3 linked regions of the Homo sapiens genome follow. The protein of the gene in region 1 purifies or fractionates together with the protein of each later gene. This does not show direct contact. Each region holds a gene or a part of one and is shown in the gene's direction. Other genes may lie near its edges.

Region 1 (9,689 bases):
CCATCAGGTCACTAACATTTTTCTACATGTCTAGAATGACCACAAAAGTATTAGGTTGGCGCAAAAGTAATTACTTTTAATGGGAAAAACCGCAATTACTCTTACAGCAATCTAATACTATGAGTAGGCCAGGTGCAGTGGCTCACACCTGTAATCTCAGCACTTTGGGAGGCTGAGGCAGGGGATCACTTGAGCTCAGGAGTTCGAGACCAGCGTGGCCAACACAGTGAAACCCTGTCTCCACTAAAAAACACAAAAATTAGGCCGGGCATGGTGGCACACGCCTGTAATTCCAGCACTTTGGAAGGCCTAGGCGGGCGGATCACCAGGTCAGGAGATTGATACCATCCTGGCTAACACGGTGAAATCCTGTCTCTACTAAAAAACACAAAAATTAGTCTGGGTGTGGTGGCTCACGCCTGTAATCCCAGCACTTTGGAAGGCCAAGGCAGGCGGATCACAAGGTCAGGAGATTGATACCATCCTGGCTAATATGGTGAAACCCCATCTCTACTAAAAAAATACAAAAAAATTAGCTGGGTGTAGTGGCGGGTGCCTGTAGTCCCAGCTACTTGGGAGGCTGAGGCAGGAGAATGGCATGAACCTGGGAAGTGGAGCTTGCAGTGAGCCGAGATCTCGCCACTGCACTCCAGCCTGGGCGACAGAGCGAGACTTCATCTCAAAAAAAAAAAAAAAAAAAAAAGTAGCCGGGTGTGGTGGCACAAGCCTGTAATTCCAGCTACTTGGGAGGCTGAGGTGGGAGAATCGCTTGAACCTGGGAGGCAGAGGTTGCAGTGAGCTGAGAGCACAGCACTGCACTCCATCCAGCCTGGGCAACAGAACAAGACTCTGCATCAAAAAAAAAAAAAGTTCTATGAGTATTGACTTTTGGATTACAAATAAATTTTAGTGAGTAGGCAAATTTGCCAGTACTTTGGTAGGTAATGAGGATCAACTGTGTGTACAGAAGGAAGAATGAGGCTTCAGGCCGGGCACAGTGGCTCACACCTGTAATCCCAGCACTTTGGGACGCCAAGGTGGGTGGATCACCTGAGGTCAGGAGTTCGAGACCAGTTTGGCCAACATGGTGAAACCTTGGCTCTACTAAAAATACAAAAATTAGCTGGGTGTGGTGGCACACGCCTGTAATCCCAGCTACTTGGGAGGCTGAGGCAGGAGAATTGCTTGAACCCAGGAGGCAGAGGTTGCAGTGAGCCAAGATCGTGTCATTGCACTCCAGCCTGGGCAACAAGAGCAAAACTCCATCTCAAAAGAAAAAAAAAAAAAAAAAAAGAATGAGGCTTCAGAGTGGAGAGGAGGGAGCAGCAGACAGAGGATAATTCACAAAGCGGTTACCATGAAGCTAAACTTTGAGGGGTAAGTTAACTTCCCCAGGTAGGAGGGGACTCTGGGTAGAGTGGGCACCATGCACAGGGGCATGAGACAACAGGGGATGAAGTAATGTCTTTAAGGTGATGGTGAAAAAACCAGCGGCGAACATGTCAGGAAGAGCCCTGATGTCCAGGAACCTAGGAAAGGGCAGCACTTCCACACCCACCCCTTTTCACAGGGTTTTTTGTGAGCTGGGTGGTGCCAACTGCTATTACAGAGAAACCCCAACTCAGTGCTTTGACCCAACAAGCATATGATTTTTTGCACACATTAGAGTTCAACATGAATGATGGGTGAGCAGCTTTTCATGAAGTGATTGAGGGACCTAAACGCCTTCAAAACTGTGTCTCCCCCACCCCGAGGGCCTCAGAGTCCTGGCTGACGATCAGCAAAGGGGAAAGGTGGAAGGTGGACAGTTGCACAGGGGTGTCTACCTGCCACACCTTGAAGTGACTCATGTCCCTTCCATCTACACCCTATCATCACACGGCCCCACCTAGATGGGAGGAGGGATGGGGAATGAAGTCCCCAGCTGGACAGCTGCTTCCTAGGAACATGTCTACTACATGTTCATGTACTCTGGAGGAGAAATGTGACTCTTGGTGGACAGCTAGCTGTTTCTGCCACAGGCCCTCACATTAGTCCATCAGACTACAGGGCAGAACTGAAAAGCTGTAGCCGGGCGCAGCGGCTCACCCCTGTAATCCCAGCACTTTGGGAAGCTGAGGCGGGTGGATCACCTGAGGTCAGGAGTTCGAGACCAGCCTCAACATGGAGAAACCCCATCTCTACTAAAAATACAAAATTAGCCAGGCGTAGTGGTACATGCCTATACTCCCAGCTACTCGGGAGGCTGAGGCAGGAGAATTGCTTGAACCTGGGAAGTGGAGATTGTGGTGAGCCAAGATCGCACCATTGCACTCCAGCCTGGGCAACAAGAGCAAAACTCTGTCTCAAAAAAAAAAAAAAGAAGAAGAAGAAGCTGTGGTCAGTGAAGTCTATGGAAATGGAGTGTCAAGGTGCAGTCTAGACAGAGTATATAGCCAATAAATGCTTGGTGAATGAATGAATGAATGAGAAGTGCTTTATGCCTCATTCCCAGCTAGCTGGCAGGGAAGGGAGCATTCTCATTTTTCCTGCCGTCAGACACATTGCTTCCTGTACCTGATGTCTGAGTCCATTCAGGCTTCTATTACAGAATACCATAAACTGGTGACTTATAAATGACAGAAATTTATTTCTCACAGCTCTGGAGGCTGGGAAGTCCAAGATCAAGGTGCCAGTAGATTCAGTGTCTGCTGAAAGCCCACTTCCTAGTTGATGGAGGCATCTTCTCACAGTGTCCTCACGTGGTAGAAGGGCCAAAAAGCTCCCTGAGACCATTTCACAAGGGCAGTAATCTCATTCCTGAGGGCTCCCCTCTTACGACCTAATCACATCCGAAAGGTCCCACCTCCTAACCATCACCTTGGGAGATTCAAGATTGAATTTTGGGGAGGACACAACATTCAGTCCGTAGCACCTGGAGAGGAAATGTGACCACAGGAATAGAAAGAGGGATGCCCAGAGAGAAGAGGTCTAAGTAACTGCAAATCTGGTCTGTACCTATGAATATTCTGTCCATTTAATTCAACTTCTTTGGGATTAGGGCTACACAGACCTTCTGCAGGATTTGGAAAACCCAACGCATGACTGAGTGGTTAGAAATGGTTTGAAATAGCCTGGAAAGACTCCAGGGAGGAGAGAACGGAGCGCGCGCGTGCACACACACACACACACACACACACACACACGCAGAGCCGGGGCTTATCTCTAATCTCCATGCGGATTTTAATCCAGCCTTGCATGTAATCGCCTCATAACTCCACATTTCCAATTTATTAATCAAATGCCATCTATGAGGCAATGTTGCGGGCCCCACCGGTGTTTCTGCATTTGATGGTTGCTGAATATCTATGCTTCAGCAACTTCCATCCACGCCAAACAAGAGAAAAACAACCGCCACCTTTTCTCCCCAGAGCAAATTCACACTCAGCAAGGATAATCACAAATCCTCCACAGGTGAACAAATCAGAATAAATGAGGAGTCAACACACCCACCAAGGCCTGTGAGTTACGGTATCAAGGCAGCTGTCAGGGAGGGTCGTGGGTTAGGGAGTGCCTCCCTCTTCTAATCACAGGCACCATTTGAAAAATGCAGGAGAGGGGCCAGCTGCGTCTGCCAGGGAGACTGCTATAAGTCGTCTGTGTGCTTGTTCCCTGGCATCCCAGGGTCAGGAGTCCTGAAGCTCATCTGGCAGCTGCTGCGACAAAATCTTTCTGATGGCTCAAGACATTGGCCTCTATGATCTCATTTACATTCATTGTGTGTGCATTAGAAGGGGAGATATTAATACAAAAGCATGGCTATAGAAAAGGGATGAATTGTTTTTATTCAAACACAGAATGGTCAGTAGCAGACCCAAGGTTGTACTACTTGGAGATAAAAGTCTTTAACTCTGGGCCCTAATGCTGTCCCTGCTCCCCACCTGCCTGCCAGACTTCCACCTCCTCCTCATCTGATCCAGCAATCCAGCACACACAGGCTTGGCTGGGATGTGTGCAGAGAGGAGAGCCAGGCTCAGCCAGCTCCTAGCTTGGTGCCCCTGTAGAATGGTGCTTTAGAAATACGTGCTGCACAGATGAGCATGTGACTTAGTCCATGCCCTCCTCTCCTCATTGCCTCCAGCAACTTTCCTAAAGGGAAGGTAAAGTCTTGTCATCCCCCTGCTCCCTTCCCTACAGTGTGGAAATGCCTGGGAATTTCTGCCCTTGGACCTCCAAGCCACGCCCCTTGGGAAAGTGCCAGGATAGTGGTGGGGTGCTCAGAGGTGGGGACTCCCAGTTACCTGCTTTGGGTGACTCTGGCCTTAGCTGGCCCTGAGGTGGAGGCCGCCTGGGAACTGTGGGTCAGAGGAAGTCAGCTTCAGCTCCCTCAAATGTGGGGATCTTCCATCCCCAAGTGACCCACTCAATCTTTGGGGCTGTCGTGCTGTGAACTGGTCAAGAGAAGTATATGATCCAACTCCTGACTCAAGAATCTTGCCTGCTTGATGGATGAAGAGGGAAGGCGGATGGAACCAGCTGAGTGGAACCAGCCACAGAGCAAGCACGAAGTGACAAATCACCCAGGGACGAAATCATGCAGGCAGGCAGGTGGGCAACCTGAGTCCATTTCATCAGCCATTGTTTAATTTATTCTTGGTTGTACTTTCTGCTTTATTTCCAACACAATCAAAACCAGATGTGTGCAAAAGTCACGCTATCACCCAGCACAGGATTACCTAAGATCTATTATAATGCAGCTTCATGCCCATTACAGTATTCCCATGCCCCTCACAGGGCAGTGTGCATCTGTTTTAGTGCTACCTAATGTCTGTTAGGTGCAAGCTGGCCCACACATGGCTTCTAGGCAGAACAGTCTACAAGTGACAGCGTGACCAGAGAGCAGAGACAGGAAGGAGGCCCAGACATGAGTGTGGGATGCTGCAGAACAGCAACAGGATGCTTCTGCTATCCCCAAATGTTATCTCAAATACCTCAACGTCAATGCTTTCTGTTCCATGTTCCTCTTCTCCCTGGACAGCCCCTCCTTCTGAAAGTCAGAACTGTCTGCTCTTGAGCTTGCCTTGAGGGAAGGAAATAATTTAGATAAGCAGAGAGGAAGACAGGCAAGGGATGTGGTGGGGCAAAGGCGGAGATGTATCTTCACAGGTCCCTGTCCTCAGCACCCAGAATCACCCCTTCCCTGTAGGAGGGAGCTGATAGAAAGAGGGGATCTCCATCCAGGAGCCACCCACCAGGCAGCTGGAAACATTTGCCAACAGCAGGTACACCTAGGGCTCAGCAGAGGGTTGGGTGAGAATGGTCTTGCCCAGTTTGTGCCACACTGAGCACCGGCTGGAGGAGGAAGCGGACAGAATGCCATCTGGACACAAGTGCTCCCTCACTGCCTGGGCCTGGGTCGCCTCAGGCTTTTGTGTCAGATCAGCCACTCCCTCTACAGATAATGCTGCTCCAGGCAAAGAGGCTTAGGTGGGTCTCCAGGGCAACCGCAGCTCAGGAGCTGGCCCGCCTCCATGGTTCATCAGGGAAGCTGTGGCTCCAGCCTCGCGGGATACATACACGCATACACACACACACACACACACACACACACACACACACACACACACCTACACACCCCACAAACAATAGTCCAGGCTGGATCTCTCCTCCTGTCTCTTCTCTTGGTAAAACTTCTCAGAGAACCAAAGAGAGGCAAAATTTGAGGCCAGCCGGCAGCAGCAGAGAAGCTGAGGGAGACTTGAGGATGTAGACTGCCCTGCCCTGCTGTGGCTGCTCAACTTTCTTTTTTTTTCCTGAAAATATCCAGACACTCTCTTCTCCCAGACTGGGAAGCAGAACGCAGGCCCCCTGCTGTGACGCTGCACCTGAGCAGAGGCTGACCTCAGAGGTAAGATGGAGGTCTCCCCAGGAGACAGTGTCTTCCCCACCCGCACCCTGGCACAGCTGCACCTTTGGAAGTTAGGGCTGAGGCTTGAAGCTGGGTGGGGTGGCCTCAAGGGGTGTGGCAGGCTGGGGAGCCTAGAAAGCCGCCCACCTCCGGGACCCAGATGGCCACAGGAAGGCCCCTTTAGTCCTCATCAGTTCCACAGGAGTTGGAACCGATGAGGGTCCTGCAGCTTCCTCGGGGCTATAGCCTGCTCCTTGTTTTGTAAACCTGTGGGAAGCCATTGTTTTTGCCTGTTCTGGAACTGCAAGCCTCTCGGGGAGGACCCAGCTCCAGCAGGTTCCTTTCTGCCTTTATAGAGTGGACACAGGCAGGGGGAAGGAAAGCGAAACCCAAATCAGAGACTCTTGCATGGGTTTGCGAACTGTGATTCGAGCATCTACTAAGTCCAAGGCACAGAGTCAGGCTCTGGGGATGCAGCAGCACCCAGGGCACGAGGGTGATGGATGTGCCTCAGTCCCCTCGAACATGGAGCAGTCTGTGCATCCCTGATAACATGCCCAGGAGAGTGGGCCCAGGCAGATGGGTGCAGGGTGGGGCGCCAGGGAGATCGGGCCTAGAAGGAAAGTCCAGCTGCGACCAAGGGATGAGGGTCAGTCCCCTCCCACTGTGGTCAGTCAGACCTGTGTACACGCCCTCTCCTGGCTGCACCTCTGCCTCAGAATGGGAAGGACTGGCTGCCATTCACTCATTCATTCAGGAACCGCTTATCAAGTGCTACCATGTGCAGCAGATTCAACCCACATTCCTCTCGCCCTTGCAGAATTCATAGCTAGGTGGGGAAGAGATAAATACAACCCAAAGCGTGAGAAACGTGTTTGCTAGATGCCATGGTGATGGGCCCTTGTGTCAGGCCCTGGTGGCTGGGATCAGTGCTCCATGGGTGGGGGGAAGTGAGGGGCCGGCTGCAGGGAGGAGTTGTCTCTTGAGGGGTTCCCGACAAATGAGCAGATGTCTGTCAGGTGGGCAGAGGATCCACAGGTCAGGCCCGCTCATATCTGGCTTGGTGGATTATAGGTTGTTTTTCTGTGATGCCAAAGAGAAATAAGGTCAATTTGCAATCTGTAAAGTTGGACTTGGGCCTTATCAAACACAGAGCTGGGAGGCAGATTAGCCAGAGAAGCACCTACTCTCTGCCCCCACTGAGAAGTCTCTGCCCAGACTGAGCGTCTGGCGTCAGCAGAGCCAGCCTGCCCCTGCAGTGAAGCTGCCAGTGCTCTGGGACAGCCTGACTCAGGTGCTGCTCTATGCCTGGGTCCGGCGGGTCACACAGGGCAGCCCCTCACCCTGGCCTGCAGATGCCTAGCTCAGCTTCAGAGGTGGAGGACCCGGGCCGGGTTCCCTGGCCATGGCTCCCTTTGCACTGAGAAATTGGCCTTCCTGGGCAAGGTCTGCACGCCCTCACTGTTTGGCTGGGGCCGGCGCAGGGCCTCAGTTCTCACTAGAGGTGAGGGCACTCTCATCCCTCCTGCAGGGGGTCAGAGCCCTGCTTCCAGCTCCAAGGTCACACTCCCCATTGTTCCCACCATTGAGACATCCCTGGTCCCCCTCTGAGTGCCAAGTGGAACCAGAGACTCCTCTTGCCCTTGAGGCACAACGCGAGAGTTTTTCCAGCACAGCTAACGAGCCACAGCTGGTAGTGGCGCCTCCCAGGAGCCACAGAAAAGACATTATCCTCAGGGATGTTCAAAAATAGGCTGAAAGGAAGGCTCTGAGAGTGTGGGGGTGGAAGGGGTAATGAAGGAGAAAGGAAAGAGGAAAGAGAAGATCAGAGAATGGAAGATAACGGGCGTGGGTGAGTGACACCAAAAGGCAGAGACAGAACGTGCGAGGGCTTCCCCATCATCCACTCTGCTCTGTAAACCTGAGGCCTCACCACCTGGGCCTTCTCTTGAAACAGGGAGGCTCAGCTCTCCCAACACGGTGACCAGAAGCCAGGGCTGGGGAAGGCCAGGAACAAAGTTGGGGTCAAGCTTGCACCAAGCCAGGGGATCCTTTATTTTTGTGCCCCCTTTGGGAGTCTGTGAAGCCTGTGGACACGTTCCTAGAAAAATGCTTCTAAATGCATAAAAGTAAATTCACTGGGGTACAAAGGAAACAAGCTCTATTGAAATGCAGCTATCAAAAAAAAAAAAAAGAAAGAAAAAATGATTTATGATATAATAATATGTGTGCTTCCCTATCAACATGTGAAATAATAAAACCTAGTAGCAAGTCTAATAAATGCCACAATTTCATAGTAGTGATGAGCATACCAGATAATTCAAGAATAACAACTTTAAAGCATTTTGTGAAAAATCTGTGGTTTCTGCTGGAGATAAAGCCATGGGGCTACTGATATTACTGTGGTCTATGACCCTCATTCATAACTAAAGAAATACCACATTTCAGTTAAAGGTTAGTGGAAATAAAGATGACTTTTTTCCCCACCCAAGTTCATAAATCCCTGAATTTTCCCTAGGACCCAAGGGTAAGAATCTGTACTAAGCGACAATGGTAGCCACTGATCTAGGTGAATCAGCTTATTGTTAGTTTATAAAAATAAAACATTTACAAAGACATAATCTCATTTGATTTTCACAGTAACTTGAAATAGGTACCTTTATTATTCCCTTATAGATTGGGGAAACTGAGGCTTGGGGCCATGAAGGTGACTTGGACAAAGGCAGCATACACGGGAGGGGAAGGGCGTAGGAACTGAATTCAGGTTTTATCTGCTGAAGGCTGCACTGTCTCCCCAAGCCCAGCCTGCTCCACCTGAGCTGGTGATCAAGTAGAGGCGGAGTGGGGGTGCAGCCAGGCCACCCAGCATGCATCTGAGGTCAAAAGCAGTGGAGGTGGTGAGTGGGGGTGAGAGTGGGGATGGTACTGGACCCCAGGCCCCAGACTCCACGGAGGGAATATGGGGAGAGGGAACGGAAGGCATGTATGTGTCAATGGACAGCAGCAACTCTGTCCCCACCCCGGCTCCCAGACAAAAGAGGGAAACGCAGCCCAAAGATTCTTACTAAGGACCCCAAGATGGATAGGGGTCTTAACAAGCAGGGCCCAGCCCATGTTCCTAGCTGGCTTTCATTTCTTTTCTTCTTGTTTTGTGTCATCATTGCATTTGGTCATCTGTCTCCTCTCTATAGAGCCTTCAAGACCTCTTTCCAGGTGGGTTTTTTTTTTTTTTTTTGACAGAGTCTTGTTCTGTCGCCTAGGCTGGAGTGCAGTGGCACCATCTTGGCTCACTGCAGCCTCCACCTCCCGGGTTCAAGCAATTCTCATGCCTCAGCCTCCTGAGTAGCTGGGATTACAGGCATCTGCAACCACACCTGGCTAATTTTTGTATTTTTAGTAGAGATGGGGTTTCACCATATTGGCCAGGCTGGTCTCAAATTCCTGGCCTCAAGTGATCTGCCTGCCTTGGCCTCCCAAAGTGCTGGGATTATAGTCGTGAGCCACCGCTCCCGGCCTCCAGGTGAACTTTTTAGCCACCTGATTGTGTCTCATAAGAATTACAACCCCTGATCACTGCACAGGATTTGTATAGTTTACTGAATGTTTTCACATATTGTCTCCTGCCCGAGTCTCAGAGAAGCCCTGTGGAGTGGGCTGAGCTGGTGTCTGAACACCATTTTATAAATGCAGAAACCAAGGCCTCGCTGGTTAATGAGCAGTAGCGGTTATGCAGAGAACAGGGGCAGGCACTTCCTGGGCACACCCTGCACTGCTTACACAGCCGAGGCCCAGGAGTCCCTTT
Region 2 (8,926 bases), on another chromosome or scaffold:
TTTGAATATTGCATTGCTGGTGTAGCTCTCTCCCCCTGCTATTGGTCTGTAGTGCCTCACTGCTGCTGTTTTCTTGCAGGTGACTATCCGGCACCAAGAGCCGTCCTCACAGGCCATGACCATGAAGTTGTCTGTGTTTCTGTCTGTGCAGAACTTGGGCTTGTTATCAGTGGTGCTAAAGGTCAGAAGTCATTTCTTTCATTTTCAATGTCTAGAAGATGACTGTTTTCTCACACTAAGCGTGATTGTCAGTTTATTTCTTCCAGGAAGCTTCCCATAGACAAATGGTATCCCAAAGTTATTTGTAGATGTTTAGTTTTATGATTAATATTTACTGGCACTAATATAAAATATGTATAAAATTTTATGTAGTATTTTGTGGTCAACAGTGTTCTAAGCAGAACACTGATAAATTACAGTGTATTCTTATGATGCAGCCATTGTAAAGGACATGTAAAAGACAAGGGGAAAGTATCCCTGATGTAGTGGGGGAGGTGGGGGGTCATGTCACTCATCAGACACGGCCTAGGATCCCCTCCCTCTTCAAGTCCCTTTCTTTATAAGGCCAGGGGCTGTGTAGAGGTTGGTGGAAAGGAAACAAAGATTACTTGGTTCTTTGGAGGTTTTGTTTTGTTTTTGAGGCATACCTTCACTCTTGTCACGCAGGCTGGGGTGCAATGGTGCAATCCAGGCTCCCTGCAACTTCCGCCTCCTGGGTTCAGGTGATTCTCCTGCCTCACCCTCCCTAGTAGCTGGGATTACAGGCGCCCGCAACCAAGCCTGGCTAATTTTTTGTATTTTCAGTAGAGATGGGGTTTCACCATGTTGGCCAGGCTGGTCTTTAACTCCTGACCTCAGGTGATCCACCCACCTCAGCCTCCCAAATTGCTGGGATTACAGGCGTGAGCCACCACACCCAGCCTCTTTGGAGTTTTTGTAGAAGATCTTTCATTTCAGGAAGTCAGGAAACTTAGGTCCTAGTTCTGGCTCAAATAGCAGTTCTCTGTGGGAAGACTCCCAGGCAGAAAGGAGCCTGATGCTTGGAGAAACTGAAAGGAGCCCTGGGTGCTGCTGGAGTATCACCGTGGTGCCACAACCTGGAGGAATGAGAAGGCTGAAGGGATGGGAGGGGCCTGGGGCACAAGCATTTGCAATTTTTTTTTAAATGAGTATAGTAGGAAACTATTGAAGTTTTTTAATCGAGGTGATGAGATAGATAGGTTTGGTTGTTAGAGCTCATTTCAGCCTTTCTACGGAGAATGGATAGAGTCTGAAGGCTGGCACCATGTTTTTAAAATTTTGGTATCTAAGAATAAATAACCCAGAAATGGACACATAGGATATTTTCAGTCTTTTAATTTTAAAAAGTAATAATATGTGTAATATCATTTTACCCTGTGAAGTTAAAAAAAAAAAAAAAAAGGAAAATAAGTGACACATAGTAGGCGCCAAGAAAGAGACATTTCCTGCAGGGGCTGTGTGATATTAGAGATGATTGCTGGTGTTTTCCTAATTTTCTATAGGGCAAGTCTATTACTTTAGTAATCAGGACAAAATTTAATCATGTCACTTGCTTTGTAAAATATGTGTCTATTCAGCTCAATTAAAAATAAACACGTAATTCATACATTGTTTTGTGGAAATCTTTTTGGGACAAGGGAATAGATATATAACACCAAACTATAGTGACCAATTTTTATGAATTGATCAGTGAATTTTTTACTTTATCAACACTATTTTATAAGGGCAAAAAAACCCAGAAACCATCAGAGCCAAATGTCACTCCTTACCCTCCTTTCACACTCTTGCCTCACTATTCATTTATTTGAAAGACAAAATATCTTTCTGTAGGCTGAAATACTTAAGTTTTCTCAATTTTGCTTTTACATTTTATGCGTATGGATGACAGAAAAAGGTAAAATGTACTTGACGGCAGTGTATTGATGTGGTACAACGCGTAAAATTTTGATGCTACTTGAGAAAATGAGCAGCTGTTCTGATAATTCTATTAAACTTTCAAGAAAAGTTTCTAAAAGCGTATTAAGAGAAAATGTCTGGCACATAAAGTCTTTTATTGTCACGTAATCTGTGAGCTGTACCATTTTACTATGAATATTACCTGACAAAGGAAAAGACCAAGTATCTACCTGGTGAAGAAGCGTGCGGCGTAGGAGTGTGATATGTAGCAGGTACTCTGGCTTTGCTCTGTTTAAATGTAGCATCAGCGCTTGGCCTGGCCAGCCTACCTCTTTCCTGTCCTCTTCCGTCACATCTGAGCGCACACCCAGCAAGGTTTTCAGGTTGGTGGGAGCTAGTATGTCGTTTGTCGTCCCCAACTGACCCTGGCATTGATGTCCCCACTTTGCAGAGGGCCCTTGCCTTGTCCACACCATCACTGGAGATTTGCTGAGAGCCCTTGAAGGACCAGAAAACTGCTTATTCCCACGCTTGATATCTGTCTCCAGCGAAGGCCACTGTATCATATACTATGAACGAGGGCGATTCAGTAATTTCAGCATTAATGGGAAACTTTTGGCTCAAATGGAGATCAATGATTCAACACGGGTAAATCTGCATAGTTCGTGCTAAGTAGGACTGAAGCCAAGAGATTAAAGATTGATTGTTTTACATTAAATAATTCATAATAGAATGTCTGTGCTATCCAGATAAATGTGTTCTAGATTAAAAGTATATAACTTCTTGCGGACTGGTACTTTAAAGAAACCCAAAGTTCATTTAATTGCAAGTAATTAACTCACTGCATTAGACTTCAGAAATGATAGCTGTTGTTTGATTAAAGCTTAGAACCTCGGGAGGGTTTTTAAAGCTCCTTTTATAATTGTTTCAGTGCTGCACCCTCACAACATTAAAAGTGAGTTTATTTTCAAAGATTTCTATCTCTAGAACCCTAAACAAAAATTACATATACCCATTTGCCCTTCATTCATGAATAAATTATAATTGCTGGGTTGTCATTATTAAACACTGTTTTGAAATATGTTTCTTCCATTTGTTCTTTAATTCTCTATAATATTAATATTCAAGATTTAACTAAACATGTTACTTAATGCTCAAATTCTTCCTGGATTAAATTGATAATATTCTCTTGGGAATTTAATCTTGGTTTTAATAAGATCTTTTGTATATGTAAGAACTTCGATGAATTCCACAATGGAAATTCTGTGGATTGAACTTGATTTTGTTGGACAAATGACTGACAGTAGGCAATAATGATAAGGGAACTGTACTGAGTACTTTTCAGTAGTGACAGTTGGCTATTTAGGAAAAATTGAGAGAAATGGTTGTTGTGTATTTTATTTTATTTTGTTTTTTTTTGTTTGTTTGTTTTACCTTTTCTGAAGGCCATTCTCCTGAGCAGTGACGGCCAGAACCTGGTCACCGGAGGGGACAATGGGGTAGTAGAGGTCTGGCAGGCCTGTGACTTCAAGCAACTGTACATTTACCCTGGATGTGATGCTGGCATTAGAGCAATGGACTTGTCCCATGACCAGAGGTGAGCTGCGTCAAGGACAAGTATCATCACTGAGAACTGTCATTGAAGGCTCTCTTCATTCTACCAAGGGTGAATTGTGCTGTGAGTGCAATTCCAGCATCCAAATGAAAGAAAGACTGGCAAAGAAAAGGGGAAAATGAGGGGAAGAGTAAGGATTCTAGTGAGAGGGAAACAGAGGAAGAGAATAAGAAGGAAAAAAAGAAAAGGATCTGATGAAGAACAGGTGCCTGCAGACATGTTTTAAGGGCCCAAGACATAGAACTTACTCCCACCAAGTTCCCTGTTCTCAGGTTCCTGCCTAGTCTCAGACAGGCCACCCTGGCTTATATGATGTGAGGGAAACACGTATTTTTCAGCAGAGGTGGGATTCAGTGTGAGACCTACTTCTTGCTAACCAGTTTCCAGCAAAGTGCATAGTGTGGGCCGTAGCTGGCCCCCCTTTCAACAGCATGCGGCACTCACGCATTACCCAGAACAATTTTTTTACCCCCATGTTCTTATTTACCTGTTTCTCATTTATGTTATTTTGTTTTATTGTATGTATTTCCTTAAAACACGTTAATCCTTTAATCCAGCTCTTTCTTGGAAAGAGTTGATATGGATGTTAATCAATTAATAATGATTTTCCATTGTTCCTCAATTTGCAATAGGATTTTATTATTTCCTGAAATTTACCTTTGGGTTTCTTACAAAGTGAAAATAATATTAGAAATATAAAGTCTAAAGTTCCTAAGCCTTTAAAATAAACTACAACCCTGTAATCTGAATATGGCATGTGATTTCTAATTTTTGCTATTTAACAGAAATAAGAAAAGCTTGTTAATCAACGTTTTTCCCAACTACATGTAATATTCCTCATAACAGTATTGGTTTTAAAATATTTTAAATATTAAGACATAATAAAGTTAACAAAGCATCTTCACAATATAATAAAATGGCACTGAAGTCATCAGGAAAAACGCTGTAAGCTAATTTAGTCTGGGAAAGGATGTTTGGTCTGCAGCCCAGACTGTTTTTAAAGAAGGTTTAAGGTTATTATTGGAGTATCCCAAAGTGCTGCAGCCCATACTTAGGAATAAATGGGAATGGTTTGTTGTGTTACTATTTGTATATATGTGTGTTTCCAGAGTGTTTGAAATGATTTGTGTTTGTAAGCAGTTTCAATATTTCCCTGATATTCTTACTCGTTCGTGTATTCATTTTGCTGCCATCATCATAGGTTGAGTGCAGTGCAAAGTACTAAGGATCCACAACAAGAAACTGACCCCAGAGAGCTCAGATCCTCATAATCATTGCATATGAGGGCACCAGGAACAGACTAACAGAAGAAGGAAGGGATGAACTCTTCTTGAGGGCTGGGAAGGGCAGGAAAGACCTTAGAAGAGGCTCATCCATTCACCAGGCATGAACAGACAGGGTGGATGGAAGAGCATATTCAAAGTTGCAGTAGTATTAGGGGGTCTCAATGGAGGGGGGAAAGATACTAAGTTTCTATTTCTATTTTAACCTCATCCTTGGTTTTGATTATTTTGTTGTTTTATAATGAATAGTGCATGCATATCAATTATAAACTGATAAACATATATTGGGGATATTACTCAAAAGGTATTTATTGGATGAGGTGTCTAATCAAAAGTGAAGCAACACTTTATGTAGACAGAAATCCTGAAACCTGAGTTCAGTCAGTGGCAGTGGGACTGGGGAGGAATATCCCTGAAAAAGAAGCCTCAGAGCTGAACAGCTGATCAGTTAGGAGGGAGAGGGAGAGGAGACAAGGTGACTTAACCAGCAAAAGACCAGCAAGGTCAGAAGGTACCAGTGATTCATGGTGGACATGTTGAATCTGAGGGTTTTGTGACACAGCCTGGCAGTGACCTCCACTTGGCAATGGGAAATCAGCATCTGGGGCTTCAGAATGAGACGTCGTTGCCTTTACGTCCAGGGAGACTGTGGACCGAGAGGACAAGAGGTGGAGTGATTCAAGGGGGCAAAGAAAAGAAAGGTCACAGAGATAGGAAGAGATGCCAGATATCCTCAGAGAAGCCAATAGATGCCCAAAACAAGGCAGCGGACAGGCACGTGTGTGATTGCTGAGAGAAATGGGGCACCCAGCGGAGGCTGGAAATGTGGTTCCGTGGGCCCCTCACGCTCTGCAGCAGGGCTGGCTGTCCAGGTGTGTGCGGGCTAACTGTGCTCCTCTCAGCAGAACCAAGAAGAAATTTCAGTCCTACTTCCATGAATACAAAATTAAGACTTGGCAAACCTTGAGATCGTGATATTGTCTAGTGTAAAATGCCAAACTTTGAGATACTGTCTAGTGTAAAATAGCAACCACAGAAATGATTTTATATCACTCTTAACTGCTGTTTCTGCTTTTCCAGGACTCTGATCACTGGCATGGCTTCTGGTAGCATTGTAGCTTTTAATATAGATTTTAATCGGTGGCATTATGAGCATCAGAACAGATACTGAAGATAAAGGAAGAACCAAAAGCCAAGTTAAAGCTGAGAGCACAAGTGCTGCATGGAAAGGCAATATCTCTGGTGGAAAAAACTCGTCTACATCGACCTCCGTTTGTACATTCCATCACACCCAGCAATAGCTGTACATTGTAGTCAGCAACCATTTTACTTTGTGTGTTTTTTCACGACTGAACACCAGCTGCTATCAAGCAAGCTTATATCATGTAAATTATATGAATTAGGAGATGTTTTGGTAATTATTTCATATATTGTTGTTTATTGAGAAAAGGTTGTAGGATGTGTCACAAGAGACTTTTGACAATTCTGAGGAACCTTGTGTCCAGTTGTTACAAAGTTTAAGCTTTGAACCTAACCTGCATCCCATTTCCAGCCTCTTTTCAAGCTGAGAAAAAAAAAAAAAAACACGTTTGATACTTTGTACATCAGATGCATCTTATTTAAAAGGGATACTTTTGTAAAAGTAAAACCTTGTATAAAGAACAAAATGTTTCTTAATTTTATTGTGGAGTTACAACTTGCATGTTCCTTACTCCTGTTGGCTTGATGGAACAGGTGCATTCACACTATGAAACAGAAAGATCTGTCCAAGGACACAGCTTGTATGAAAGGGTTGAATTTGGGCTCCATCAGTAATTTTTGACATTTTCACCAAAATATAGTTTGCACTTTTTAATCTAAAGTCATCCCTTCTGAGTGAAATTTGCTCATAAAGCATTTGGATACTAAGCCATTATTTGCCATTTTGGGTACTTTATACAAAGAAAATTCAGCCCTACCCTGCATAATTTGAAGACACAGCAGAAAGGGGGCTTAGGGATGAGGTCCTGGTTTTTCTTGTATAAATAGGAGTCATGGGCGTTAGTTCTGTAGTAATAACTTCCCAGCACCTGGACATCTCTTCCAGAGTTATCCCACTGGCTTGGTGTGTATACATTAGGGGAGGATAATCTGATGCTAACTTTTTTTTTCTCTTTGGTTCTTGAATAGCTTAGTTTCTTTAATAACAAGTCAAACTTTATTACAACAATAACTGAAGTTATTCTTTTAGGTTCTCGTGAAATTCTCACTGAAAGCCACATTCTTAGCCTAAGGCATTTCATCTTTTATGATATAAAATGATGGCTATCAAATGATTTTCCATACATTGTACTGATCAAGTTATACACCCAGGGGTATATACACTTTCTTCATGTTTCTTCTTTGTATATTTGGTGACTGTATCGTCATAGATGTACATATTGTGTCGGTAGGGCTATGAGGCATGTTACAGGAATGTAATTTTCTCAGAATTTACACTCACTCGCAGTCATTTATTTAAAAAGATAAAACAAGATAATGGGTTCTTTGTATTGGCACTTTGCACCAGAAACATATCATTATTTATTGATGTGATTACTTATTTGTTATCCACCTTGTACTAGTAAGTTTTAGCACTGAATTCCTTCTTCACTGTTGTTTGTATTTATGAAATTCTGAAATTATGGGGAATCAGCGTAATGATTAAGTTATTCATCACCAGGCTGTAAGCAATATCTTGAGTTTGTAGCTTAGAATTGGGAGGATACTTAACATCTGGAAGACAAGTTCATTTCATCTTGAGATCATGGTGAAATATTTTGGATATATAAATTCCTTAAGCTATTGTAACCATGTTTTATTGCAAAGATGTAAAATATGCCAGATGTGTGTGAGTTGGAAATCAAAAAAAGAAAAATAAAATATGCAAAGAATTCACCGACTGTTTCAGATTTCATTGGACATGTCACTAGCATGCTTTCATTGTGTTGTCATACAGGTTTCCGAAGTCATCATCATCTGATGTAGAGCCTACAGCATCTAAAAACATGAAATCGAGTCCTAATGAGGTTCTGCAATTTGCTGAAACCTGAGCTGCTCTGCCGAGCCATCTGGCAGGGATCTGGGGCAACAGCGACCATGGGGAAACGGCCCTCATTGTCTATTCTGCATAATCCACTTTGGGGATTGTCTTTATTTTATTTAAAAGGAACTAAGTAGTGAAGGTTATAATAACTCCTTTTTTGAGTGTTATCACATAATGCCTTTTTCATTTGAAACCACACCTTCTAGAACCCATCAGTGACCAGGCATGGCACAGGCAGGGACCGAGGACCTGGAGAGGCTGAGCAGCTGCTAGCAAGGGCAGCCACGAGTGGGCTGAGGGGGATTCGGTCACACAGATTGGCATGGGTGGTAGCAAGGGCAGCCACGAGTGGGCTGAGGGGGATTCGGTCACACAGATTGGCATGGGTGGTTGGGGCAGCGGCCCAGACAGGCCCAGAGAATGACAGAACTGCAGGCCGTGCTTCCATCCGCATTCCCGAGACTAAAGGGACAGACCCAACAGTAGCCTAAGGAAGGTTTGCGCTCTTACTTTCCATCCTATCCCCAAACCAGAAATCTGTCAGTCATCTGCCCTGCTGGCTCCCTCACCCAGCCCTCCTGCCAGGCACTCCAGCCAACTGACTGATCACTACCTAAAGTGTCTTTTGAAACTGCCCCTGCCCTTTCCAGCACTGTCATCTGGACTGTCCGAAAACCTCCTGACCTCTGACCTGTCCCCTCCCATCCATGCTCCGCCCTGCTGCGAAGGCACCCATCCAGTCATCTCCCTCCCTGCCGCCCCGCGCCCCCCTAGTGCCCCCCAGCGCCCCCCAGAACCCCCCAGCACTTTGAAAAACCAATACCAATGGCTTAAAATGGTATTCTTAAACTCTGGTGGGTTGAAAATCACCTGGGGAGCTTATTTTTAAAAGCAGGATCTAGAGTCCCACCGCTCCCCCCTCCCACCCCAAGCACTTCTTGGGCACATTTTCAACAACACTGATTGGAGGGATAAATTCTAAGCTCAGTGAAGCGAAGTCCTTCAGGAACCACCCCCAGCAGCCAGCACCCCTAGTAAACCAGCCTT
Region 3 (8,959 bases), on another chromosome or scaffold:
TTAAAGAGTGCACCTAGTAACGTTTGTGATTTCATTGTCTTATTTGTTGTCTAGGTTTTCATTTTTTTTTGTTTGTTTTTGGCTTCAAATTGAACATTTTTCTGTGCTTAAGTAATACTTTTTTTCACTTGGTATGATAAAATGCTTTTACTCATTAATTAAAATTTAAATTAAGGCATTTAAACTATTCTGAATTATGAGAATTTTGTAAACACATTCTTTTCTAAACACATAAAACTAACACCTTAGATACTGTATTTTGTCTAGACTCATATTGCCATAAGTTAGAATGGGTTTATGACTTAAAATGAATAAAGATTAGTCATGTTAGAGTTAAAAGTATAATATGAATTGGATTTCCTCCTAAATAGTGAATTTGAGGATAAAGTCCTTAATTATCTTGGATTTTTTGAAATATCTGAAGATTTTACTTGCTGTTTACTGATGAAATATCTGAAGTATAAATTTCAGTCACTGTACATAAGAAATGAAATATCTGAAGTATACATTTCAGTCACTGTACATAAGAAAAAACTACCATTTAGATTGGGTAAAAGCATGTGGAAATAAGATTTTTTTTTAAAGAATTCTCTAATTGGTTTATTAAAATTATTTTTTAAATCATAAGATATGAACTGGCATATACAAAAATGTATATGTGTTTATGGTGGCTGTATGATAAGATTAAAAGCGACTTGTTTGAAGAAATTTCAAAAGTTACAAAATTGGCTGGACATGGTGGCTCATGCCTCCCAGCACTTTGGGAGGCTGAGGCAGGTGGATCACTTGAGGCCAGAGTTTGAGACCAGCCTGGTCAACGTGGTGAAACCCTGTCTCTACTAAAAATACAAAAATTAGCCAGGAGTGGTGGTGCATGCCTGTGGTCCCAGCTACTGGGGACTAAGGCATGAAAATCACTTGAATACGGGATGCTGAAGCTGCAGTGAGCTGAGATTGTGCCACTGCACTTCAGTCTGGGTGATGAAAGGAGATATCTCACAAAAATTACAAAAATAAAAAAGTTACAAAATGTCCGCATTTCATGGATTATCAGCACTTTGCACCTTATTTAATTGCTAAATAATTCTTTAAAAATACCTGATTTCTGTGTGAGTGTTTGTGTGTGTGTTTTTATCAAATTTAAATGGCACTTAAAAAAAAAAAAGAAAAAGAGAGAGAGACAGACTGTTGCTGTGCTTCCCAGGCTAGAGTGCGGTGGTTCTTTACAGGTGCCATTATATATAACACACTACAGCTTCATACTCCTTGGCTCAAGTGATCCTCTCCCTTCAGCCTCTCCAGTAGCTGGGACTGCAGGCATGTACCTTTGTTCCTGGCTAAAAGTATTCTTAGCTTTAACATTTTGAAACCAAATAGCATTTATTACTTTAAAAAATTTAAAATAATAATAAGTTTTCATTACAGGAAATCTTGAACCCAGCAGAAATGCATACACACAGAAAACAAAAATTATCCATTATCCAAACACCTATGTATAACTTATTAACATTTTAGTGCGAGACCTTTTAGTCTTCTCTTCTATACATGAATCTATACATAACATATAATTATTTGCTAACAAAATGTGATCGTATTTTTACTATTTTAGAGTATTATTTAATGATATGCTTCTTACATGAATTTTAATGCCTGCATATTATATGACATTATGGAGAAGTAAAGAGCATAAGATTCAGCTTTGATATAACATTTGAATGTTATCAGACCACTTAAAATTCTAGGAAGGAGTGACCGTGTAAATGATTCAAGTTTTCTTTTTATATTCTGGCATTCTCCAAAATTGTATTTAGAAAAATTGATGGAAGAGAGATTTAAAAAATCTATTGATTTATATTATAATCATACTTTATCTGTTCCTTATCATTGACCAATGATGAGCCTGGTTCAATACTGTAACCCTTATTTTGTAGGATAAATTCCTGTAAGTGGAATTTCCAGAGGAAGGAGTCTGTACATGTTTTAAAAAGTTTTTAGTAGATATTGCTAAATTGCCCTCTAAAAATTTGTACCAGTTTATACGCTAGATTTGCATGAAAGCATCTGTTTAGACTGTTTTTAAGAAATTAAAATTGATCAAAATGACTGTTTTAAAAATGAAAAGATTAGAAGTTATTTGCTGCAATATTCTTTTGTCAGTGTTCTTCCTATCTTTATAAATGGGGATTGTACTACCAACCTTTAGAATTGCTCTTAATTATGTCAGTAATGCTTGATTTTACCATTATATCTGTTACCTATACCATTGTTATACATCAGAGTCTTTATAAAAGATCTCATTAATGTGGTGGCAATCATTTTGACTTATGCTCATTGATAATACATATGGGAAGATCCACCTGTTTTTAAAGATATATCTTATTTATCAAAGGTTGGTAACTTAATCAGAAGTTAACATCATATTTAGCTGGTATTTTCATATGAAAACAGACACTGAAAAAGATGCCTTTGCTTAAAAACAAAGTCAGTTGCTAAACATTGCCTAACAGTTTAAAATGTCTAAATTTTACAGGTTATACGGTTTTAATGTATAGATTAAAAAGATAATATTAACATCTGGATGTATTGTGTTTATCTTTTATCTACTAATTAGTAAATTTGAGTGCCAATTAAGTTGAAAATAATGGCAAAAGAAATGTTATAGTCATTAGCTCACAAGTATCTTTAACTAGTAGTTTATAGAAGTGCTTTCCAAACATTACAAACAGCTATAGATTAGCTATCAAATGATTGTGAAGATTAATGACTAGTCTTTTAGCTGGGTAATTTAGAACAATATCTGGCAATTAATTGGAAATTATCAGTTTTAAAGTCACAAATATCTTAAGGAAAACAGCATCCAAAAAGATAATACTGATAGTTGTTCAATTGCAATTTAGCTTTTAGACCATTGGATGAATTAAATTAAGGGCAAATTTAAAAACCAAATGACTTTAGAATTTTAAAAGCATTTCAGATTCTGAAGGTAAATGCTTTTCTATCTGTGGTTTTATACTCTGACTATTAATCAAGTATGAAGCGAGAATAAATACCTTTTCAGGATTTGAGATCTCAAAACATTTATATACATCCTTTCTTAAGAAGGCACTGCAGGATATTGCACAAAAGGAGAGAATAATACAAAGAGGAAGAAATGAAATATAAGAAACAAGAGACAACATAGAAGAGAGATGAAGGGGATCTCCAGGACTGTAGAAAGGGAGATCCCAATAGCAGCTATGTAGTAGGCAGATGACAGTCCATCTGGACTGGAGCAGTTTCACTCAGGAGAGGTGGACCTGTATTCTTATTAGGAGTACTTAGCTTGCTTGCCTTCATCATGTGCTGATTAAATTCCTGTTTTCCTGTCTAATGTGAATCACCTGAAGATTCTCACTTCACTCCACAAAGACATGCTGTGCTTCGACCTACTTCTTAGGGTAGAGGTTCACCATGGTGAGCTTAGAATTGAAAAATATAAAGTATTTCATGCCAATACACTCTACCTGGCACACACTGCCTCTGATAGGTTCTCCAGTTCTCTTGACCTCTATATTTCCTGTATTTCCTAATGACTTGCCTATAAGACTTCCCAGAAATGGCTTTACATATTCTCTCAAATAAGCTGAAGCCCTGCTGCAACTCACAGATTCTGTGTATCTTGTCTTTTCTTGGGAGCTCAGGTGTGGCAGTATTGCTCTTTAAAATACAATTGGCTAGGTTTGTGTTAGACTTAGTTTTTTAAACTAAACATAATGGGTATGTTTAGTATATAGATAGTAAAACTATCTTTTAAAATTATCTCCCAAAGCTCTGACCTCCAGGTAAAACTATTTATAAACAGTGAACGATAGAAATACCAGGATAGTGATTTTTTTCTGATTGTAGTGGAGAAATAGGGAGTACAGTTTGGGCAGGGCACATAGGGGAATTGTGAGGTACTGGTAACGTTTTACTTCTTGACATGGGTGGTAGGCATGTGAGATTAAAAAAAATTGTTTCTTAACCTGTACATATAAATTACATATACTCATGTTTATTGATCCATTGTATAATACAAATTCTAAAAACCTTTAATATAAATAAAATCAAAGCAAATGATTATTGAAAACTAAAGTCATTCTATAACACAGGCTATTGTAGAAATAAATGGCCTATTTTCAAAATGACTGTGAGGTTGGTAATATGTAACTTGCTTTCTTTTGACAATGATAATTGTTTGTTGGTGGAGAAATGCTCTCTCTAAAGTCAGTTTTCCAAAAAGTAGGCTAACCAGTCTTATTTTTTTGGAGACAGAGTCTCACTCTGTCACCCAGGGTGGAGTGCAGTGGTGCTATTTTGGCTCACTGCAACCTCTGCCTCCTGGGTTGGGTTCAAGCAATTTTCCTGCCTCAGCTTCCTGAGTAGCTGGGATTACAGGTGTGTGCCACCATGCCCAGCTAATGTTTGTGTTTTTAGTAGAGACAATGTTTCACCATGTTGGCCAGGCTGATCTCAAACTCCTGACCTCAGGTGATCTGCCCACCTTGGACTCCTAAAGTGCTGGGATTACAGGCGTGAGCCACCGTGCCCAGCCACTGATCTTTTAAAAAGGGAAATCAGATTGTCTTCCCTACACTCTTAATTCTCAAATGGCTCTCTCAGAATAAAATACAGTCTTTAATACAGTCTATAATGTTCTACAATCATAATCTAGCTCGTGGCCACATCTTTGACCTCATTTTCTTTAGTTCTCAGTTTATTGCTTTATTGTTATTCATCATACATACCAAGCTTATTTCAGCTCCAAGGCCTTTGCATTTGTTCTTCTCTGCCTGAAACTCTTTTCTTTTTACATGGCTTGCTCTCTCTTTTATTCTTGCCTTTGTTCAAATAGAACAGAGAGGCCTACTGCAGTTACACTAGTAAATACACCTTCTCGCCTAGACTTTCAGAACAGTTCTTCACTCTGTACTTCCCCCTCCCTTCAAAGCTCTTATTACTATTTGACATTATCTTACATATTCGTGTGTTTATTTTCTGACACCTTCTTTAGAATATAAGCTCCATGAAGTCAGGAACAATGTGTTCATCACACAATGCCTGGCCTGCTACCGATGTTCAGTAAATTTTTGTTGAATGAATATGAGGAATTGGTCAATTAAAATACAGAACCCATGTCAAATAAAATATTGGCATTGTGAATGTAAAAGAAATTGATATTTTGTTAATGTGATTATGTCATTTTACTGTTTAGTGAGGAATACATGCATTTATTGTTGAAATATTATAAAAAGATTTCTAAGTTTTAGAATTAAGAACATAGTTACAATGTGGAAATAGTTACAATTAGGAAAAATACAAATATTCACAGGAAAATATTCATTCCCTGAACATTTTTATTTTTAGGTATATCACATGGCATGAATGTTCTGTATATGTCATGAGTAAAGGCGAGTTAATGTCGATAGAAGGAAATTTTTGCATTGAGAGTCATTTTTACTTTTGTTTGCTTTTCATCTGTGTGTATACTCTTGTGATTCAATAAGGCCTATTGATTTTTGTGGATAAAAAAATCAGCTTTTCTTCCTTGATTGTCCTATCATCCTCTTATACTATGGCTCAATAAAGATTTATTGAATGAATGTTCAGTTTACTCTATATAATAATGTAGATTACAGAAACAAACACTTTTGGGATTAATAAACTATAATTAGGCTAATACTTTCTGCATGTGTTATAGGTTTTTCTGGCATTTTTGTTGCAAGGGGTGATGGGGGTTACCATTGAAACACCAATGGAAATCATATGATGGTGGCTATAAGATAATCCTTAGATTTTAAAAATTCTAAATCTTGTGACATTAACAAGTACAGCACTCTCTTTAAAAAAAAATTTACTTTTTCAGTTTTTTCCCATTTGGGTAAAAGGCAAAGCATGATATAGGAATGTTCACGGTGCCTAATATATTGTAGTCACTCAGATATAAATGGAATGAATGGATGTATGGATGGATCAACTGAAACATTCAGACTATTTTCGACCAGTTCAAACTTTGGAAATTATGGTTAACCTTTGGGGGAAGGGCTGGATCTTTTTTCTCCCATTGCTAAAAGAATTTGTATTCATTGGCTTAGTGAGATAATGGTTTTGTAGCTTAATAGATATCTGTAGAGCTACTGTAATGGTGAGCATAATTAATTGATATTTTTAATCTCTCCTGCGGACAAGTCCTGGGGAAATTGGTATTCATAGCGGTTGAAACAAGTGTTATCCAGTGCATAAAGCACTTCCCAATGGTACATACTTAAATTCTGGTACAAGTTATGGTGGCCAGTAGAATAGTGTATCCTTTTCCTATACATGTTTAATAATAGGCTAAATAATTATGTTCTTCTTGTGGTTTCATGCTGTGTTACTTGTTAACATTAAAATTGGCTGTAGTTTTTAATGAATATTTAGATTTCTGTGATTGACTTACATTTATCATTCTACTAAAATAAAATATAGGAAAATTAAGTTTTATTGTATTATATAAACTATGTATTTGAAAATTATTTAGTTTTATATTTTGTATTCTGTCTTCATTTCTCATGCATATTTTAACTGATTGTACATTTTTCACCTAGGTCACTTTTGAAATACACAAAGAAAACCTTGCCAATATATTTAGGGAACAGCAAGGAAAAGTTGATGAAGAAATAGGGCTGTGTTCTTCAACTTCAGTTCAAGCAGCCTCTGGCATTAGAAGGGATATTAATGTTTCAGTAGGATCCCAGCAACCAGATACGAAGGATTCTCCTGTCTGTCCTCATTTCACCACAAATGGTAATGAAAATTCAAGTATAGAGAAGACAAGTTCACTAGAATCTGCATCTAATATTGAACTGCAAACTACTAATACATCTTATGAAGAAATGAAAGCTGAGCAAGAAAATCAGGAGTTACCAGATGAAGGCACTTTGGAAGAAACACTGACAAATGAGACAAGGAATGCAGATGATTTAGAAGTATCTTCTGACATAATAGAAGCTGTGGCTATTTCCTCTAATTCTTTTATAACAACTGGCAAAGATTCAATGACTGTCAGTGAAGTAACTGCTTCTATAAGTTCTCCTTCAGAAGAGGATGCCTCAGAGATGCCAGAATTCTTGGATAAATCTATAGTAGAGGAAGAGGAAGATGATGATTATGTGGAACTGAAAGTAGAAGGCAGTCCTACTGAGGAAGCTAATCTACCCACAGAGCTCCAAGATAACAGTTTGTCTCCAGCTGCATCTGAAGCCGGTGAAAAACTGGACATGTTTGGTAATGATGACAAATTAATATTTCAAGAAGGAAAACCTGTTACTGAAAAGCAAACTGATACTGAAACTCAAGATTCTAAAGATTCTGGAATTCAGACTATGACAGCATCAGGGTCTTCAGCTATGTCACCAGAAACTACTGTTTCCCAAATAGCTGTAGAATCAGACCTTGGTCAGATGCTGGAGGAAGGGAAGAAAGCAACTAACCTCACTAGAGAAACCAAATTAATTAATGATTGTCATGGTAGTGTCTCTGAGGCTTCTTCTGAGCAAAAGATTGCGAAGTTGGATGTTTCCAATGTTGCTACAGATACTGAGAGGCTGGAGTTGAAGGCCAGTCCCAACGTGGAAGCACCTCAACCTCATCGACATGTGCTTGAGGTGATTTTATATATTGTCTTATTCAAGTACTTTTGCACTGAGTTAAAAAAGAGCAAGTGTATATACTTAAATTTTATTTTATTTTGAATTTGGTTCACATGCTATTCACAACTAAATAAATGCAATGAATGTGAAGATTGTATTTCAGATCATTAGCACAGTGTTTGGCAGTTAATGTGAGTTCATTAAATGACAGTTTTTATTACTATTTTTACCATAGTATCACCAGAAGTTACCACTTTGAAGGATTGGTATAATTTTAGTTTATAAAACAAATATTGGAAACACTTGCATTTTACCTTTTATTTGACTAACCCAATCCTAGTACATTAGTTTTCCAACAAACTCTAGGGCTACCTACCTGCCAGTGTATAATTTTAGTTACTAAGCATGTGATTTAAAATTGTATTATGAAGTCTATAAGAGAGAGGAGGCTTTGTGAGATCTAGAGGCACAGCCTTCTCCTCTGTCCATATCTCAGAGTGACCCATGAGACAGTGCTTGGTAGCATGTTGTCATTTTCCACTTTATTCAATTCTTATCCTCTGTCCCACCCTCCTTTTTTTTGTTTTTGTTGGTTGGTTCTTCATTATGTTATCTCTGTTTTTATTCTTCATTCTAGCCACTTCATAATCCAAATGCCACTTAGATTCTAAATACTGCCTTTCTTTTAGGCTAAGGCTAAAAACTAAGAACTGTTACTTGATTCTTTTATAAAATGCTACATAGTGGTAATACTTAACATGGTTCCAAGTTAATTACTTTTAAATTGTGGTAGTTTTGCACTTTTGATAGCTTTGCTTACATGTACTAAAATGTTAATGTTATTACTCATTGATAATTTTTCTTTCTCTAATTTGGTTCTTATAGTGTCTTAAAAACGTGTTAGATGAATTGCATAGAAGCTACTAAATTATTTACTTTGCTAAAGCCTCCTGCTGAAGTTGAACCTATTTTATTACTTTTTAAATTTCTGTATTAGATATCAAGGCAACATGAGCAGCCAGGGCAAGGAATAGCACCAGATGCAGTTAATGGACAAAGGAGGGATTCCAGATCTACTGTGTTTCGTATTCCTGAGTTCAACTGGTCTCAGATGCATCAACGTTTGCTCACTGATCTATTATTTTCAATAGAAACAGATATACAGATGTGGAGAAGGTTTGTCTATATGTTTATTATGGAAGATGTGTATAAACCTAGTCTTTATTTTCAAAGAAATCCATAGAAACAGTTTGTAATTAATTTCAGACATTTGGTTAAAAAGTAGAATAGAAATTATTCTATGGTAGGGT

What was found. Proteins that work in one complex are often made in the same cells at the same time.
Region 2: the proteins of RD3 (region 1) and NBEA purify together in Homo sapiens (affinity purification with mass spectrometry; 3 studies listed by BioGRID and IntAct, with this or other methods). This does not show direct contact.
Region 3: the proteins of RD3 (region 1) and LRBA purify together in Homo sapiens (affinity purification with mass spectrometry; 3 studies listed by BioGRID and IntAct, with this or other methods). This does not show direct contact.

The regions. Positions count from the first base shown.
Region 1 is NC_000001.11:211,487,966-211,497,654, reverse strand, and holds the start of RD3 (protein RD3), read left to right. Parts: upstream 1-5,492; 5' UTR 5,493-5,887; intron 5,888-9,689.
Region 2 is NC_000013.11:35,665,006-35,673,931, forward strand, and holds the end of NBEA (neurobeachin), read left to right. Parts: intron 1-79; coding exon 80-181; intron 182-2,368; coding exon 2,369-2,565; intron 2,566-3,362; coding exon 3,363-3,514; intron 3,515-5,895; coding exon 5,896-5,986; 3' UTR 5,987-7,731; downstream 7,732-8,926. UniProt on the Homo sapiens protein: Binds to type II regulatory subunits of protein kinase A and anchors/targets them to the membrane. May anchor the kinase to cytoskeletal and/or organelle-associated proteins.
Region 3 is NC_000004.12:150,850,590-150,859,548, reverse strand, and holds part of LRBA (lipopolysaccharide-responsive and beige-like anchor protein), read left to right. Parts: intron 1-6,605; coding exon 6,606-7,664; intron 7,665-8,646; coding exon 8,647-8,825; intron 8,826-8,959. UniProt on the Homo sapiens protein: Involved in coupling signal transduction and vesicle trafficking to enable polarized secretion and/or membrane deposition of immune effector molecules. Involved in phagophore growth during mitophagy by regulating ATG9A trafficking to mitochondria.